4 linked regions of the Homo sapiens genome follow. The protein of the gene in region 2 purifies or fractionates together with the protein of the main gene of each other region. This does not show direct contact. Each region holds a gene or a part of one and is shown on either strand. Other genes may lie near its edges.

Region 1 (5,025 bases), on a different chromosome or scaffold from region 2:
TGTTTAGATTCACTGATTTTATCATCTTAACTCTTGCTTATGGTTTATTTATAATATGGTTTTCTTGCTATCAATACATCACAAAATATTTCATGCTCACAGAAAATCATGAAATTACATTTATGAGGCCGAGGTGTGGTTGCTCATGCCTGTAATCCCGGCACTTTGGGAGGCTGAGGCGAGTGGATGGCTTGAGCTCAGGAGTTCAACACCGGCCTGAGCAACATGGCAAAACCCTATCTCGATTTCAAAAAAAGAAAAGAAATCACATTTGTAAATTCTTAGCTATGAAGGGAGCCTTAAAAAAGGGACCTATTTTACCTATATCAACTTACCACCACAATCATCCCTCACACCATCAGAATCTATCCCATTTTCTGGAAGGGAAATCACATATCAGGATGGACTAATGGGAGGAGCTCACTCTCATTTTGTAGTTCATCCCTGTGCAGCCAAATCAGAAGGAGTGGGCCTAAGTACATGCAACAAATAGATATTCATACCTGCTTGTATGCCGTGACACTTGTTGAACTAAAAACCTTCTGGGATTGGCAAGGACCAGAGCTACTATAGCAATAGCTCCCACAGTTCTCACAACAGTTCATGGTGAGGTTGTTTGTAGAGTGAAATTTTGAAAAACAGGCATCACTACAAAGACCATGTACCACATTTTGATATTTAACTTCAAATCGAGTCTAGGAAATAAACACACACATACACACACAAAATAAGCAGAGCCAGTTAAAAAAAAATCTCTTTCAGCAGAATCCCAATAAAAGTAAAATGTAACTTACATCAGCATTCTTCTGACACATACTGCACTTAGTTGAAATGCTTTTGGTATATATGGTAACAACAGGTTTTTTCTTTAGCTCATAAGATGACAAGCATGATTGGCTGCAGAAATCTTTGCTAGGATAGGAATTCTCAAAGCGAGTTGTGATCACATCCTTAGGATTTAAAATGTCTCTAAAAATAAATAACAAAGGTAAAAATGAAATGTATTCTTCACAACTGTAACTTCCTCCTCTTTGTGAGGTGAAATAACACTTACTAAGGGCAGGTACTGTATGGTAGAAAAAGGATAAGGAATCTGCAAACCTGGGTTTGATGAGTTCTGCTATTTATCAGGTGAGTGACAATGAATGATGTAATTACTATCTCAATTTCTTCATGTATAAAATGGGGCTTATAATATCTAATTCATAAATTTGTCAAGAGTGAATTATATTTAAAATATAGCCAGCCAGGGCCAGGTGCGGTGGTTCATGCATGTAATCCCATCACTTTGGGAGGCCGAGGTGGGCGGATCATGAGGTCAGGAGTTCGAGACCAGCCTGGCCAACATGGTGAAACCTCGTCTCTACTAAAAATACAAAAACTAGATGGGCGTGGTGGTGGGCGCCTGTAATCCCAGCTACTCGGGAGGCTGAGGCAGGAGAATCACTTGAACCCGGGAGGTGGAGGTTGCAGTGAGCCGAGATTGTGCCACTGCACCCCAGCCTTGGCAACAGAGCTAGACTCCATCTCAAAAAAAAAAAAAAAAAAAAATATATATATATATATATGTGGCCAGCCAGATGCTGAAGACAAAAATAGGAAGGCTTCCAGCCCCAACCAAGTTTCATCTGCTATAGCCAATGGGACCAGTGTCCATCCCACAACTCCAGACCACAAGACACTGGTTCTCTCATTAGCCAGAGGCTGCCCAAAGTAGAACTGAAATGAGACAATAAATGAATTTTTTCTTTCTTTTTTTTTTTTTTTTTTGTGAGACGGAGTCTCGCTCTGCTGCCCAGGCTGGAGTGCAGTGTCACGATCTCGGCTCACTGCAATCTCCACCTCCTGGGTTCAAGCGATCCTCCTGTCTCAGCCTCCGGTTCGAGTAGCTGGGACACCAGCACGTGCCACCATGCCAGGCTAATTTTTGTATTTTTAGTACAGACGGGGTTTCGCCATATTGGCCACGCTGGTCTCAAATTCCTGACCTCGCGATCCGCCTGCGTCAGCCTCCCAAAGTGTTGGGATTACAGGCATAAGCCACCGTGTCCAGCCAAGACAATAAATGAATGTTTAAAAATTAAAAGTGCAAGATTTTGAGAAACAAATGAGCTAACAGAAGACAAAAAATAAGCATGATATATGACAAAAGGGCTGTTAAGGCTTTGTATCAGAGGACAGATGGAAACAAGAACGAGACAGGAAGAACAAAAATAATTGGGTGGTTCTGTGAGACTCCTAGAGCCAATTTGTAAGAGCTAATTATTGCAATAAGCACAAATAGCAATACCCTGGTAAAACAGAGGTTAAGTATTGCCATTCTTCTGACAAGTATAAAAACTAAAGGAAATAGTCACTAATTATAAACACTAGTGCAGGCCACAAAGTAAATAATAATGGCAATAATATATACTACAATAAGTGTGTTGAGTAATTACTATGTGCCAAGCATTATTCTCTTTACTCAAATTACCCAATTTAAATACCACAAAAATGATGGAGTGCAGTGGCTCACCCCCATAATCCTAGCACTTTGGAAGGCCAAGGCAGAAGGATTGCTTGAGCCCAGGGAGTTCAAGACTCCAGTGAGCCATGATCATGCCACTGCACTCCAGCCTGGGCAACAGAGCAAGACCCGATCTCTATAAAAAAAATTTTTTAATTAGCAGGGCATGCTGGCTCATGCCCATGGTCTCAGTTACTCAGGATGCTGAGGTGGGAGGATTGCTTGAGCCCGGGAGGTAGAGGCTGCAGTGAGCTGGGATCACGCCACTGCACTCCAGCCTGGGTGACAGAGTGAGACCGTGTCTCAAAAAAAAAAAAAAATCCCCAAACCACTATAAGGTTAAGTATTACTGTAACTGCCACTTTACAGATGAGGAAACTGAATGAGAGGTTAAATAGCTTGTCAAAGTCATATTGCTAGTAGGCAATAAAGCTGAAATACTAATCCAGGCAATCTGATTCTAGTCTATGGAATTAATTATTCCACTATCCTGCCTCCCATCCTGCACCTTTATTATACAGGTATATTCAATGGTAAACCATGAGAAAATAACAACAACAAAAATTATTTTAATTCTTTAAAACTCAACTTTAAAAATATGACAGCAAATCTTAGAAACCAAAAGAATATGCTTATACACAGATGAAGTATTAATTTTGAAAAGTGATTTTTCTACTGAAAACAGAGCAATAAAGAGTTTCACTTAATAAGGTGAATCTGCCAGTGGCATAATAAGTACAAAAATAGCAAGTAAAAATATGTAAATCAAAGAGAATGACTTTATAATGAAAATCTGTGCACATAAATTATAAGTGTACTCTGAACCTTACACATGCAAATGAGTGTTATATCGTAACATTTACCGTAGAAAAACCACACCTTCCAACAATAACATAGCTCAAAACATTTTTCTAATTTTTTTAAGATAAAACTTAAGATAAACCCTTAGACTATTTTTTAACTTTTAATTTTATAAATATCATGTTTTAACAGTATGACTTAATTTAATTAGCTAATATATTGGCCTGATTAAGGTATCAAGCAGCCTTTGAAAATTTGTAAAAATCAAATGCATGCTGAAAAGATAAGAATCTGTCTCCTAACCTTATGCTAAAAAGTCACTGACGGGGGTGACTACTTTTAAGAAAACAATAGGCATTTGGATGTATAAGTTGTGTTATGTTCTTTAAAATTATTTAATTTTATTTTGGTATTTGGTATGTTGAAACAATATCTAAAAATAGAAAACTAAGTTTACTCTTTCAGATTAGTTTCATGAGAATGACATAAAAGCATTAATTAGAATGGTATTTTGCAACAAACTAATTTAGAGTATATAAATATTTTAAAATTCCTCTCTCCTGGCCACATGTGATGGCTCACACCAATAGTCCCAGCACTTTAGGAGGCTGAGGCAGGCTAATTGCTTGAGCCCAGGAGTTTGAGACCAGCCTGGGCAACATAGCAAAACCATCTCTACAAAAAAATACAAAAATTAGTCGGGCATGGTGGTATGCGCCTGTGGTCCCAGCTATTTGAAAGGCTGAGGTGGGAGGATCATCTGAGCCCGGGGAGTTCAAGGCTGCAGTGAGCTGTGATCACTCTACCATGGGCAACAAAGAAAAAAAAAAATCCTCTCTCCTCTTTACTTGGAAATTTCCATATAGCAGGATCTACTTTTAAATAGTTTAAGTCAAGACACAAAGCAGATAAACACAGCCAAAGACAAAATAGGGGCCTACAAGTGATATGTTAAGTATACATAGTAATATGTATTATATACACATATATTTATTATATTTATTTATGTTAATTATAAATAATCGCACGATATAATTTTTATTATTAATAATAACAGGATTCCATTTTTTAAGTACTTGCTATGTGCTAGGCCATTTGCTAACACTGTCTCATTAAAGTCCTAGGAAGCAACTATTATTTACTGATGAGAAATGGAGGCTTAGAAAGTTAAACATCTAGCCCGAAGTCACAGAGATAAATGACAGAGCCACAATTTAAAAGCAAGCTCTTACTGTTTTTTGCCTGTAGTGACTATTAACAACACACTGTATTCCTCAAATTACACTACCACAGAAATAGGCAAAATATGCCAAATCCTTCAAATGTACTAAGTCAGGGAAAGATTTATGTGACTTTGTTGCTGTTTTTTCCTCTCTCTGCATCTAAGCATTATTGTAAAGCAACAATGACCCCACAAGGACATTAGAAATAAACACATTTTTGCGACCATGTAGAGTTTTTACTTTTTAAAGAATTAAATAGCTTTTGTATACTATTAAAAGAGTGATATTATTTTATGCTATACCCAATAGCTTTCAAGATAACTGTTAAATAAATTTAAATGGTGGGTGTCTACAATTACAGGATAGTCCTGCAATTCCCACATGTCATTTGTTATTTCTTTCCATAGTAAAATTTAAAGTGATAGAAAACTGGTTTAGGCAATATTCTAACACCAAGTCACTTATTTAATGTTGCAAAACTTTAAAATTGGTGAA
Region 2 (5,025 bases):
GGCTTGGTGGCTCATGGCTGCAGTCCCAGCTACTTGGGAGGCTGAGGCAGGAGAATTGCTTGAACCTGGGAGGTGGAGGTTGCAATGAGCCAAGATCGTGCCACTTCACTCCAGCCTGGGTGACAGAGCAAGACCCTATCTCAAAAAAAAAAATAAAATTTTTTTTTTAATTAGTTAGGCTTGGTGGTATGCACCTGTAGTCCCAGCTACTTGGGAGGCTGAGGCAGGGGGATTGCTTGAGCCCAGGAGTTTGCAAGCAGCCTGGGCTACATAGTGAGGCTTTATCTCAAAAAAAAAAAAAAAGTGATTATAATTATAAAGCTATAGAATCAGTGCAGGTTTATCCCAAGGCAGAATCATTCAATCATTGTGTTATTTGCACAACACATGTTTCTTGAGTATCTACTGTTGCTAATTAGCTGTTAGGGATAGGATTACAGTGGTAAATAAGACCGTCAAGGTCCCTGCCCCCAAGGAGCTTCCAGTTTGGTGGTGAAGAAAGGCACTGAGCAAATGACAAATAGGTAAGTACAGATTGTTACAAGTGCAATGAAGGAAATTAACCAGGTTCTGGGGAGACCTAAGTAGTTAGTGAGGTCGGTGAAGACCTCTCAGATTTGTGACATGAAATACCTAACTTCTTCCCTCTATTTCTAAATATTATAGTGAGTTGGGTAGCCAGACAACCAAGATTCAAATGTGGAAATTTACCCTCTTGGGCACTAATTTTGTCTCATGTCAATTTTTGTCACATCACTGTAGTTACAATCTCACAGTTATTTGATGCTGTATGTAAACAGCATTTTCATGTAGTCAGGTGTCTAAAACACATAATAAACCAACATATAATTTACAACTAACACCAATTAATTGAGCTCCTTGTCAATTTGAAAAGACAGCAGTAGTAGAATGGTGTTTTACATATTCTACGTTCATATCACAAGGTAAAGTTCAAGTCATTGTACATTAGTAAGTGATAAGAATTCACTTCTCTAGACCTTTTTCCTTGCGATTTTTCTAATGGTTGGGGTTGTATTTAATTCTGATATGGTGTCATGTAAATTCATTTTAAACTACTCTATTGGATTAGAAGGCTATTATTTTGATATTTTTCTGGGTTAGAAAATTCATTTAAGAAAACAGTTTTTAAAAGTTTAAAATATAGGTTAGAGAATGTAGAAAAACCTAAAAATTACGATTGTTCTTCCAAAATATAGATAGATAGCTATCCAAAAAAGAAAAAAAAATTAACATTTGTTGTTCAATTCCAGCAAGTTATGATTCTAACAGGGCTTTAAAAGAAAATAGAATCGTGAAGAAACAGATCGATATTTGTTGCTCTAAGCCAATGTCATAGTGCATCTCTGCATTGAGTGAGTTTGGTAGAAGGAAAAAAAGGACAATAGAAAAAAAAACCCTCCTGCTTGACAATTTTAATAGCTTTGCTGAAATATTATAAATCAGTTTTTCACTGCAGGAAGGTGCCAAATAAAAATGACTGTGTTTGAAGTACGAAAAAGAGAAAATCAGAAAGTTGTAGAAACACAACTTCTCTTTTTCTTCCTAGGGTTAATGATAGTGTCTTTCTGAGAAATCTTAATTAAACAGATATTTAATACATTTTCTTTTTTATTTATTTATTTATTTATTTATTTATTTATTTATTTATTTATTTATTTTTGAGACAGAGTCTCACTCTATCTCCCAGGCTATAGCGCAGTGGCCTAATCTCGGCTCAGTGCAACCTCTGCCTCCCAGGTTCCAGTGATTCTTATGCCTCAGTCTCCCAAGTAGCTGGGATTACAGGTGTGTGCCACCAAGCCTGGCTAATTTTTTGTGTTTTTAGTAGAGATAGGGTTTCACCATGTTGTCCAGGCTGGTGTTGAACTCCTGAGCTCAGGTGATCTGCCCGCGGCAGCCTCCCAAAGTGCTAGGATTACAGGTGTGAGCCACCACGCCCAACCACTTATACAGGTACATTTTCTGTCTTGCTTAGTTAAGAGTGTGTTGTATTTTTACCAAAAAGAGGTTATCTCATTTTTTTAAAAAAAAGAAGTGATAGTTTATTTGGGATGCTTCTAAAAATTTATGTCTTCCTTTAATACACATACAGAAATTAATCAAGGCTGAGCTAGTTACCTGAGAAGGTCAAGAAAGGGAAGCAAAACTAAAAGCAGTGAACACATTTGTTATGGATTTTAACATTTTTTCTTTTGTATGTGTGCAGTTTCTCTAGTAAAATCTGATTATAGATCTTCTAGGTTTCGTTGGGTCTGGATGTTCGTCAGGGCTTGAAATCAATTTGGTACACTGTCTTGGCAGCCAGCAGTGGTGAATCACTAGAGAAATTGCAAACTGACTGACCCTCCTTAATACAAAATAATGAAAAAGAGAAAGGGAATGGTTTCCTATAAACTGAATTGATCATTCACAAGCATTATGTAAAGTTTGGGGGCTGCATTTCCCTTTTAAGTTTTAGTATATGGGCCTCTCTGTGTGTCCTTGTTTTGAGATCTGATAGACACAGGCTGATCACTGCAGGATTTAGAGAAATCCTTGCATTATTTGAGTCTTACTGTTGACACTGTTTAATCCTAAACTCATTCTTCTTTTTCCAAAGGTGAACAAATAAAGTAATTTAACCTTTCCCTCTAATTTACCAGGCTTATCTGGACTAAAATAGAGGTTTTAGGGTACCATGAATTAGCTGTGGAGTCCACTGATATACAGCTGTTTGTCTTCATAGTTGATCCTCCTTTCTTTTAGGTTTAGCAAGAAAGCAGACTATATTTAGATCTGATTCTCGGGACTTGTAGTTCTAAAAAGAATACAGTCATAGGGTCAGTGGGTGATTCTAAGACTCAATTTTACCCCCATTTTAATTACTCTCAGAATATAATATTTTTATATGTGACAATATAAAGAGATGCCTGAAATCCTAGCACTTCAGAAGGCTGAAGTGGGAGGATCACTTGAGGCCAGGAATTTTTGAACAGCCTGTGCAACATATTGAGACCCCCATCTCTACACAATATTTAAAAATTAGCCAGGCAGGCCGGAAGCGGTGGCTCACGGCTATAATCCCAGCACTTTGGGAGGCTGAGGTGGAAGGATCACAAGGTCAGGAGTTTGAGACCAGCCTCGCCAACATGGTGAAACCCCGTCTCTACTAAAAATACAAAAATTAGCCAGGTGTGGTGGCGTGCATCTGTAATCCCAGCTACTCAGGAGGCTGAGGCAGGATAATCGCTTGAACCCGGGTGGCAGAGGTTGCAGTGAGCCAAGATCGCACCACTGCACTCCAGCCTGGGCAACAGAGGGAGACTCTATCTCCAAAAAAAAAAATAGCCAGGCATGGTGGCGCACACCTATAGTTCCAGCTGCTTGGGAGGCGGAGGCAGGAGAATTGCATGAACCTAGGAGTTCAAGGCTGCAGTGAGCTATGATTGCACCACTGTACTTCAGCCTGGGAAGCAGGGCAATACCCTGTCTTTGGAAAAAAAAAAAAAAAAAAAAAAGAAAGAAAGAAAGAAAGAGATGTCAGAGTGCAAGTTCTGTTTTTTAAAATGTTGCTTGTCTGCTGTCCATGTAATGCTTTATAGCCATTATATTTCTGGCCAAAGAGGTTGAATGATATTTTCTCCAGGAACTTTTATGACTAGAAAGACAACCTATATTTCTTTAAATAATATAGGCCAATTTCTCATGAGGGATTTTCCCATGCCTATCCTAGGAACAGTTATATGGTACCCTCAATTCTGGCTGCTGTAAGTGAGGGGCTGATTTAGAAACAAAACCTAGATTTTCAGATTGATTTGGTCTTCTATAGACTTAAAAAAAAGTTTAATGTAAATTTTTTTGTGCTTTCCTTGCAGGAAATTGATACTTTATCAACATAGAGATTAATTATTTGTATTTGGGAGCAGCAGAACTGGGGACCAATTACCTGTCAAGAGTTTTATAAACCCGTGACATAAACTGTTATTCCATTGCTTTCATCCTCCATCTCACCTTGGAACTTGTATTACTTATGGCGTTCAGGAGACAAGTGAAAAACTTTGTGAAAAATTACTCAGATGCTGAAATAAAAGTCAGGGAAGCAACTTCTAACGACCCTTGGGGTCCCTCTAGTTCTCTGATGTTAGATATCAGTGACTTGACTTTCAACACAATTTCTCTCTCAGAGATTATGAATATGCTGTGGCACAGACTCAATGACCATGGGAAGAACTGGCGCCACGTGTATAAATCCCTTACCCTAATGGATTATCTCATCAAGAATGGATCAAAGAAAGTTATTCAGCATTGCAGAGAGGGGTTCTGTAACCTTCAAACACTAAAAGATTTTCAGCACATAGATGAAGCTGGAAAAGACCAAGGTAATGGTTAAAGAAGTTTATATAAGCTGGGTGTGGTGGTGTACACCGGTAATCCTGGTGCATGGGAGGCTGAGGTGGGAGGACTGCATGAGCCCAGGCATTTGATGCTGTAGTGAGGAAAGATTGCACCTGTGAATAGCCACTGTACTCCGGCCTGGGCAACATAGAGAGACCCCGATCTCTAAAGTTTTTTTAAAAAGTTTATAGCATGTGCCAATAAAGATTAGGAGTTTTGGGGGATCATTTTATACCAGGAGGTGGGGAAGAGTTGTACTTAAATGTACTAGCTGTCTTTCCTCTGGGACGGTTATAGTTTCCAATTTAATCCTCTGTATTGAGTCTTCAGTGCCTTAGAGAACAATACTTTTTTCAAAAGGAAAAAAAAAGTGAACACACTTAGGTTTCTGATAAAATGATACCTCATAGAAAATGAAAAAAGTGAATAAAATAGGAGGCATGGCAATTTGGTGTAATAATGTCACTGTAATTTATAATTATAATTAAACTGGAATTTAGTCATAAATTAAGGAAATATTTCCACAGGCTGGAATCTTCAAAGACTATCTAGATGGAAGCAGTTATATGAATACAAAAATTTAGATCATAAAATAATTCTTTCGGGGGCGGAAGAGGAGGTGCAGTAGGG
Region 3 (5,025 bases), on a different chromosome or scaffold from region 2:
GTTGAGGCTGCAGCGATCTGTGATCATACCACTGCACTCTAGCCTGGGCAACAGAGCAAAACCCTATCTCAAAAATAAAATTAAATTAAAAGGATATAATACGTACCTCATGGAGCAGTTGTGAGCATCAAAAGAGAAGCTGTACATGAAAGCTAGAAGGTCTGGGTCTTATCTCACCATGCTAGATGTAGGCCACTCCCACCACAAGACTCTGCCTCCTGCAACCCTTATCTCACCTCAGCACCTAGCTCTGGGGGTTGTTCTCTTTCCCCTCCCCAAAAGGGCAGCTGCCTCACCTTGGCCTGCAGCTTCCTCACAAGGGTTGCTTGTCTCTGCTGGGCCTCCTGGGAGTTCTTCAGCTTCCGCCAGGAGGCTGCCTGATTCTCTGCCATCTGCTGCTGTAGTGCCAGCACCTGCTCTTCCAGTACCAGCTGCAGTGACTGGGGCTTCATGTTGTTCAACCCAGGGCTTCTTGTCTCCATGAGGGCACCAGGTGGTAGGCCCACAGGTCCCTAGGTAGCCAGAGGGTGTTCACGCCCAGCAGGGTCTCTAACCATTGCCATGCCACTTCAACCTCCTCTTGAACTGGGGACCAAAGCACATAGTCAAATGGAAAGGACTGTTCTTTTACTACACACAAGACTCCTCAGAACCTTTAAAATACTAAAAGGGACCCTCATCTCTGAAGGGCGCTATGATGAGCATCATTCCCCAAATTTAACTGACCATGAGACAAGCTCACAGGACTAGTGTCTCCTGGCATGACTTTTGGAACTCTGCACTAAACCAAGAGCTCCTGGTTTATCACTGCATCCTTAGTTCCTGGCACAGTGGTTCAGAAACATTTGTTGAATGAATCGCTGAAGGTGTTCTTAGTCTAGCAGGGGAAATAGACACAAACTATTACAATACATACAATGTAGCATGTGAAATAATAAGATAATATGAGAAAACAAAGGAAGAGAACCCAGCCTGGGAGCCTGTGAACTGTGTGAATCATCATCATCATTGTTAACACTTGCTGAGTGCTTCTGGAGGGCTGTTGCTTTAAGTGCTTTACATGCATTACGTCATTTTGTTTTTACAAAAATCTTGAAACCTTCCAATGCCTTCTCATTACACTTCACCAAACGTACTATTATAACTCTTTATATATAGATGAGGAAACTGGGGCTTAGAAAGGTTAAAAAACTTGTGCCAGGCCACACAGCTGGCATATGGTTGAGAGAGATTTGAACACAAGTAGTCTATCTGACAAAGAAAAGGGGTAGCAGGCATTTCAGGCAAAGGATCCAAAAGAGAGAAGGAACCAGTGGCAGCAGGATGGCCAAACCCCCTCACCCACCAGGAGCTGGGCCAAAACAGGGCAATGGGCCACCACAGGCAGAGGCGGCCAGCCTAACGGTGACCTTCATCAGAGATACCCAGGACAGGGGAAGGCATGGTGGTAAAGAGTTCTGGGTGTTAGTCCAAGCTCTGCCTCCAATGGGCTCTGTGACCTCAGATGTGCTACTTCCCTCATCCAGAAATGAGGGTATCATGACCTCTGAGTTACTTAGGCCTCTAAAACACACAATTATCCCATAACCTGGGCCAGAGGAAGAGTTCTCTCATTTTATTAACCCTAAGACTCTCACCAGCAGGGCTAAGGAATATCCGTATTTTCAACTACCTATCAACAAAATGGTATATACAGCGAATGCAAACCTAACATTTGCACATACAGTAGAAATTTCAAGGGCCCCAAATCCCTTTAATGCACCAAACTATTGATTTCCCACATCCTGGCTCAAATGCCACGTCCTATCATGTCCTCCCAGATGAACCCAGGAAGAGTTAGTCACTTTTATAGCTATATACACAGAGAGAATACATATGTTCTGATGTCTACTCTACATCTTATCATCATTACTTGTCTATTTTCTCTGCTAATCCATGAGTACCTCAAAGGCAGGAGCTGTCTAATTCATTTTAATTGTAACTTGTCAACAATGTCCAGTGAAGAAATGCATGTGAGCCTCACTCCTGGCAGAGCTAAGCCATAAGCCAGAGATGACAAATCAGTGCCCTGCTAGCTCTTTTCAGCCATTGTGTGGCCCACATAATAGTTTTTAAGAATTCAAATTAGGTGCCAACATTTATCATTGGGAGAATGTACATAAAATCCATATTTCTGGCTCCTTTGGAAAATCAGAATACCCAGTGATGCTTGACCCATATTTCAATAAGGCAACAACCAGCTGCACAGTTGAATAGTGCCTGCCCGTTTAGACAGGGCACGCGCTCCGTGCAGTTGAACAGCGCCTGTCTCCTTTAGACAGGGCGTGTGCTCTGCACAGTTGTATAGTGCCTGCCCCCTTTAGACAGGGCATGTGCTCTCCAGTTCATCATGGCCTCCCCTATGCACACACCGATTCTCTCCCTCACAATGATAGCATATTTCAGTTGTCATTTATCATTGCAACTGTGCTATTGTTTCTGTTATAGTAGCATTAAAGAGGAAAACTCGGCTTACTAATTTACATTACCTCCTGAACAACCGAAGATACTTGAGTTTGCAGAGCCTGTACTAGGCAGTAAGGAAAGTGCATAAAGTAGGGAGAATAGAATGGCACCAATAAAGGTTTGGTGGCACCAGTACTCCAGGCCTCTTCCTAGCCTACGAACCAGGGGAATACAACCTTTCCCCATACTATTACACCCTCCTTTTCAGCCTTTTTGCCAAGGCTGTGTGACCAACTCACCATGGTGCTATGAAATGTTGGCTCTGTTGAGTTCAATGAAGCTCAATCCCTCTCTGCTGGTTGGAGGCACAGATCTTCCAGGAAACTATTCTCTTATCCCAGGATTTCTGCCAACAACTCTACCTACAATAATGTAGATCCAAGTTACTCCAAGGGAACTGAGGAGCCTTTTCTCTCCTAGTATGGTGAGGGCTGAGCCGGGCTTTTGCATGCAGTGGGAGTTTATGAGGTCTCAAAGGCCCCCTCACACTTTGTTGAATCCCTATCCCAAAACATTAGGTTGAACCATATGAAATTGCTAATATTATCCTATTATTATTATTATTTTTAGAGAAAGGATCTAGCTCTGTCACCCAGGCTGGAGTACAGTGGTGCAATCATAGCTCACCGCAGCCTCAAATTCCTGGGCTGAAGGGATCCTCCAGCCTCACCCTTCAGAGGAGCTGAAGATGTGTGCCACCGAGGCTTTTTTTTTTTTTCTTTGGTAGAGACAAGGTTTTGCCATGTTGCCTAAGCTTGTCTCGAACTCCTGGTTTCAGACAGCCACCCCCTGGTCCAAGCCTCCCAAAGCAATGGCATTATAGGTGTGAGCCACCAAGCCCAGCCTCACTCATTACTTTTTATCTACAAAAATGGCAATTTCACATCATTCAACCTAATATCTCTAATAAGCAGTCCTGCCACACATAGTTCCATGAATTCTCATTAAGTTTTCTTTTAGGATATGGCTGTCAGTAACTTGCAAACATGATTTGGCAAGGTGGTATTAGTAATACTTAAGCAAATAAAGAAAATTATATTACAATTATATAATTATTTTACTTTAGCAGATAATTAAAAAATTTTAAAGCTATTTAGAAATTTAGTCCACCCCCCTCATCTTGCAGATAAGGAAACTGAGGCTTGTAGAGATAAAGCAACTTCATTTTGTTTATATTTTTATATGCCCCACTTATCTCAAAAAATGATTTGCATGGCCAGGCACAGTGGCTCACACCTGTAATCCCAGCACTTTGGGAGGCTGAGGCAGGCGGATCACTTGAGGTCAGGAGTTCGAGACCAGCCTGGCCAACACTGTCCAGCCTGGGCGACAAGAGCAAGGCTCCATCTCAAAAAAAAAAAAAAAAAAAAAAAAAAAAGATTTGCATTATAGCAAATATACCATACTAAAAGGGGAGACTGGGTGCAAGGTATACAGGAACTCTCTGTACTATGCAATTTTTCTGTAACCCTAAAATTGTTGTAAAAAATAGTTTTAAAAAATGATTTAAAGTTTTTTAAAACCAAAACAATCCTCATAAAACTAAAATTTATTAAAACAAGAATAAAAGAGAAGAGACAGAGAAAAATTATCTCAGGAATCTTTCTGAAATTCAGATTTCATTCTGAGCTTCCTCAAGACACAGTTCAGCATCCTTTTACAAACACACTGCCAGATCAGATCTGCTAGGAATAAACTAGCAGAGCCCCCAAAGGGAAAGTAAATTTCAATGTGCCTGAGAAAGGGAAAAGAGCAGTAGCTGGCAAACTAACAAATTGGATTACATCTAAATAAGATAATGAGTGTCAGTGTACTTCTAAGCTGTAAACCACTGAGCCAATGTTATCATTACTGCAGGAAAAAGGGAAAGATTCATTTCTTTTGTACATTAATTTATCCCATAAACACTCATGAATTTCAACTCAGTATCAGGAGTCTGCCACAGTGGTACAGAAATGAACAAGACCTACCTTCCTACTTTTGCTAAGGATCAGACAGGGAAGACAGCACCCTTACTAAAGACCAACAGCCACCTGTGAACCTGGAGTGGAAAGTGACAGAAGAGTGAGATAAATTATGTATTTGATCCTCTCTCATCCAAAATACTACAAAAGGAGTATTTAAATAAAGTTTAAAAGAGAAGCAACACTACCACCTAAACTTGGAATAGAGGCATAAATGCTACAAGGACTAAGATGCAGAATGGTATTAAATAGAATTTGTCACTTAAAGCAAAAACAGAAAAATACTTGAGGACACAAACATTTTATTTACTGAGAAAGAAACTACAGTATAGACATTTGTGTACAGACATAATTTGTTTCTTACTCCTGAAAAAAACAAATTAGCATGCAGCTCCTTATTTAAATCTCATGTGGGGCCTCTCTGTTGCTCTCTTCCAACCTCTGGCCTCTCCCACTCAGTCTCCTTTGCTGCCTTTTCTCATCTCCCCAGTATCTAAAGTTTGGAAACCTCAAGGCTTCAGACCTCTTCTCCATCTCCATTAATTTCCAAGGTAAT
Region 4 (5,025 bases), on a different chromosome or scaffold from region 2:
CCAAGGATGACAGTATAATATACTGGGTAAGTATACATGCATACAAAGCAAAATGACAGAAGGGGCAGTGTGACAGTATTAATATCTAACAATGTAGAATTCAAAACAAAAGTTATAATGCAACAAATTAGAGGCTTTTATACGACAAGTTACACTCTACAATGAATATAAAATAGCCAAGAACCTTAATGTATCAATTATCACAAAATTAAATACATGAAACAAAAACTGTTTTAAATATCAGGGAAGGTAACAGAAGCACAGCTATAGTGAGACAGACATTACTCTAAAGCGACGGCTGGCCAAGTAGCAAAAATAAGGACGTATAAAGCTCTTACAGATCAACATGAACAGGGCATCAGCAGAAAAAATGGTCAAAGAAAATGAACAATTCCTAAAACAAGAAATGAACGCAGCCAATAAGCACAGAAATATGTTCACCCTCCCTGGAAATCAAAAACATGGATTAAGCCAAACTATTTTTTTCTATCACATTTAAAAATGTTTTAAATAACAGAATCTATTATTGGAAGGATATCAGGAATGCAACAATTCCACATATCTCTGGAGGGAACACAGATTGGTTTTGGAATTTCCCATAAAATGCCTCCTCTCTCCCCTTCTCCAATTTTTTTGTATATATGGCTTAAGGTGTAAATCCCATAGCATTAAATTTGAAACATCAGTTCACAATGGTAAGGACATGGGTTCCAAAGCCAGGCTACCTAACTCTTCACTTATTAGCTATAGTGTCTTGGGCAGGTAAATTATTTAACTTGCATCTGAAATGATGGCAATAGTACCTACTTCTTAGGGTTGCGGTGAGGATTGAGTTACTAGCACTTAGAACAATGCCTGGGAAATACATGCTCAATAAATCTTGGCTATCAGCACATGGATTTCTCACAAGCAGTTTCTTTCTAAGTAACTCACTAGCATTTACTGAGTACTTCTAATTGGGACATTTGTATGTGCTCAAATAATTTCAAATTACTTATAATTTTTTTTGTTGCTGTTGAGACAGAGCCTCGCTCCATCGCCCAGGCTGGAGTGCAGTGGCGCGATCTCGGCTCAATGCAAATTCCGCCTCCCAGGTTCACGCCATTGTCCTGCCTCAGCCTCCCGAGTAGCTGAGACTACAGGTGCCCACCACCATGCCTGGCTAATTTTTGTATTTTTAGTGGAGACAGGGTTTCATCATGTTGCCCAGGCTGGTTTCGAACTCCTGACCTCAAGTGATCCGCCCACCTCGGCCTTCCAAAGTGTTGGGATTACAGGCGTGAGCCACTACGCCCAGCCTATATTTGGTTTTCTACAATGAACATGTATGACTTTTGTGGGACAGTCATTTATCCTAACTGGTTGAGACATTCACCTGCGCTCTCTCAAGGATACCTGGCCAGGTCCCATTCAATTACAGACAGTCCCCAACTTATGATGGTTAGACTTAGGATTTTTTGACTTTACAACAGTACAAAAGCTACATGCATTCAGCAGAAACTGTATGTACTTTGAGTACCCGTACAACTATTCTGTTTTTTCACTTTCAATAGAGTATTCGGTATTGAATTCATGAGATATTCAATACTTTCTTATAAAATAGGCTTTGTGTTAGATGATTTTGCCCAACTGGAGGCTAAGTGTTCTGAGCATGTTTAAAGAAGGTTAGGCTAAGCTATGATGTTGTGTAGGTTAGGTGTCTTAAATGCATTTCGACTTACAATATTTTCAACTTAAACTGGGTTTACCAAGACATAACCCCATAATAAGTCAAGGAGCATCTGTATAAAAATACAACTCATCGATCCTTTGCCAGTGCCTTTGGTCACTCAGCTACATCAGTTCATCTTCTGCATATCATCTTGGAGACTGTATCATTTGAAAATAAGTCAATGTCAACAATATTTAGGATTTCTGACAATAAAACAAAGCCAACAGACAAAACTGTTTGTGTGACTACAAACAATCCAATTTATTCTTGTGTTTTGGGGCTACATTTTTAAGCCTGGAAGAGACATTATCTTTTCTAATGATATAAAAGCTATATAAAGCTTTTAATTGTATTATGATTAAGGAAAATAAGGCAATGAGTATTATATCCTATTGTTCCATTTATAATTTCAGGCAGCACATTTCAACCATCCATTTTTAGGCAAATTCCCCACAGAAATCAATTTGACTTCCTTTGCATAAATAAGCACGTGCAGGTGGAAATTTCAATAATATGCTGTATCCTTTAGGTGGCAGGACAAACATTTGCAAAACTGTAACAGGACAGTAAAAGTTTCCATATGATAGTGATGAAACAATACATGTTATAACGTTCAAATCTATTATTCTTGGATCTAGTTTACCAAAGATACAAACATAAGTTAAACAGGGCTGATAAAATCAAAATTTTGCTGGCTATTAGCTAATTCTAGAGAGGAAGGGAGAAGCAGAAAGATGAACTTATAAACTCACTAATAGGATAATTTCTGAAGATGAAACTTTCATGACTAGTCAGTTCTCTCTGAACAGTGATCTAAACTTGTCAAGTAATTTAAATTTTAATTCAAGGTTTAAAAAAAAAAAAGAATGAGGCCGGGGGCAGTGGCTCACGCCTATAATCTCAACAATTAGGGAGGCCGAGGTGGGTGGATCGCCCGAGGTCAGGAGTACAAGACCAGCCTGGCAAACATGGTGAAACCCCATCTCTACTAAAAACACAAAACTTAGCCAGGCATGGTGACAGGAGCCTGTAGTACCAGCTACTCGGGAGGCTGAGGCAAGAGAATCTCTTGAACCCGAGAGGCAGAGGTTGCAGTGGGCCAAGATTGCGCCACTGCACTCCAGCCTGAGCGACAAGAGGGAGACTTATTCTCAAAAATAAAAAAAAAAAAGAATGAATGAAAACCTTCCTTTACCACAATCCCCAAGCTGCACGCCCTCTAACTCCCTATTTTCAATAGAATTCTTATTTGAAGATTTGTCTATGCCTCATCTGTGCCATCCTCTACCATAAAACCAGAATTAGTTTCCAAATCTGATGCTCCCTCAGCTGTATAATTTCACAGCTCCATACCACTGCATTTGCTCTTCTTTTGCTTGGAAAGCCACTGAAATTGTCTTTCTGGCCCAAGCTCACACTCTACCTTTCAACCTTTTTATGGGCTCACTCTACACTCTATGTGCCCCCACAGCAATTTATACCGACTTCTATAATAACTGTTAACATGCCATATTCATTTATTTTTTATATCTAGCTCTTAAAATTCTTGAAGGCTGTGACTAGCTCTTTCTAATTACAGTACAGAAATTTTAGGACATACGCTAAATACAACAGTATCACAAAAGTGAATAAGCATCATGAACCACCCAGCCGCAATTTTTTTTTTTTTGATGGAGTCTTGCTCTGTTGCCCAGGCTGGAGTGCAATGGCATGATCTCAGCTCACTGCAACCTCCGCCTCCCAGGTTCAAGCAATTCTCCTGCCTCAGCCTCCCTAGTAGCTGAGACTACAAATGACCATGCCCAGCTAATTTTTGTACTTTTAGTAGAGACAAGGTTTTACCATGTTGGCCAGGCTGGTCTCGAACTCCTGACCTCAAGCGATCTGCCCACCTCGGCCTCCCAAAGTGCTGAGATTACAGGCATGAGCCACTGTACCCAGCCCCAAATGCAGTTACTAACTCAAGACCAATCCTATTGCAACTATACCCCCAACTTACTATCCCCACCCACCCAAAGATTATTTTGAAGGAAATCCCAGACTCCAAAATATTTCTTTGAAAGATAAAGACTCAGCTGGGCGAGGTGGCTCATGCCTGTAATCCCAGCACGTTGGGAGGCCAAGGCAGGTGGATCACCTGAGGTCAGGAGTTCAACACCAGCCTGGCCAACATGGCAAAACCCTGTCTCTACCAAAAATACAAAAATTAGCCAGGCATGGTGGCGGGCAGCTGTAATCCCAACTACTCGGTAGGCTGAGCCAGGAGAATCACTTGAACCCGGGAGGCGGAGGTTGCAGTGAGCAGAGATCACACCACTGCACTCCAGCTGGGGCAACAGAGTGAGACTTCATCTCCAAAAAATAAAATGAAGGATAAAGACTCTTTATAAACACAGCCACATTACTACCACTGTCACATTTAAATGTTTCAAATAATTCGATATCATCAAGTATCCAGCTGATGATTATATTTCCTCGATTGTTTCATAAACTTTTACTTTTTACAAGTAGTTAATCAGGATCTAAATAAAGTCCATCACGGCAATTGGCTAGTATGCATTTTAATCTCTTAAATCTCTTGTAATCCATAGGTTTCTCCTCTTTTTCCTTTTCTTACAATTTATAATTTTTAAGAAACCATTTCATTTTTCCATAGATTTCCACAATCAGAATTTTGCTGATTGCATCCCTATCTTCCTTTGTTCCCTGTATGACAATAATCAAAATTATTGTATGACAATAAACAAAATCATGGTTATAGCTAAAGGGTGATTATTTTGGCAAGACTATTAATAGGTGGTAATAAGTATTTCCACCACAAGATATATTATGCCAGCTTGTCTTTCTTTTTGAGACATTAGTAGCCTCTGACAATCATGTCTATAGACTCTAGATTCATTAATTCATTAGGAGCTGTAAAGTTATGATATACTAACTCTATCACCCCTTCTTCATATATTAGCTGGGACAGAATACATGATATACTAATTACATCATCCCTTCTTCATCTATTAGTGGCAGTAAAGTATAACTAAAACAGACACTTCCTCTTATCAGCTATTTGGCTACCTTGAGATACAGTTCTCACAGGAAATGCACAATAAATGTTTTATTATTTCCCTTTATTTTCCTGATCTTGAAAGAATGCATCACTTTCCTAGCATCCTCCAAAAGTCAAGAGTTGTTTTTATTCTTTTGGTCATCATTACAAACTCATGGATTTAAGGATTTCAGTGCACTACAGTTGCTATTCTTACTGATGATCAAACTGTCCCATCTTTGGGCAACTGAGAGCCTCTTGGAGTTGGCTCCAG

What was found.
Region 1: the proteins of ENTHD1 (region 2) and ZMYM6 purify together in Homo sapiens (affinity purification with mass spectrometry; one large-scale study listed by BioGRID and IntAct). This does not show direct contact.
Region 3: the proteins of ENTHD1 (region 2) and CEP250 purify together in Homo sapiens (affinity purification with mass spectrometry; one large-scale study listed by BioGRID and IntAct). This does not show direct contact.
Region 4: the proteins of ENTHD1 (region 2) and UACA purify together in Homo sapiens (affinity purification with mass spectrometry; one large-scale study listed by BioGRID and IntAct). This does not show direct contact.

Annotation. Positions count from the first base shown.
Region 1 is NC_000001.11:35,014,194-35,019,218, forward strand, and holds part of ZMYM6 (zinc finger MYM-type protein 6), read right to left. Parts: intron 970-5,025; coding exon 795-969; intron 696-794; coding exon 504-695; intron 1-503. UniProt on the Homo sapiens protein: Plays a role in the regulation of cell morphology and cytoskeletal organization.
Region 2 is NC_000022.11:39,886,754-39,891,778, reverse strand, and holds part of ENTHD1 (ENTH domain-containing protein 1), read left to right. Parts: intron 1-3,875; 5' UTR 3,876-4,030; coding exon 4,031-4,379; intron 4,380-5,025.
Region 3 is NC_000020.11:35,457,825-35,462,849, reverse strand, and holds part of CEP250 (centrosome-associated protein CEP250), read right to left. Parts: intron 4,547-5,025; 5' UTR 4,476-4,546; intron 2,868-4,475; 5' UTR 2,745-2,867; intron 586-2,744; 5' UTR 483-585; coding exon 297-482; intron 1-296. UniProt on the Homo sapiens protein: Plays an important role in centrosome cohesion during interphase. Recruits CCDC102B to the proximal ends of centrioles. Maintains centrosome cohesion by forming intercentriolar linkages.
Region 4 is NC_000015.10:70,752,807-70,757,831, forward strand, and holds part of UACA (uveal autoantigen with coiled-coil domains and ankyrin repeats), read right to left. Parts: intron 1-5,025. UniProt on the Homo sapiens protein: Regulates APAF1 expression and plays an important role in the regulation of stress-induced apoptosis. Promotes apoptosis by regulating three pathways, apoptosome up-regulation, LGALS3/galectin-3 down-regulation and NF-kappa-B inactivation.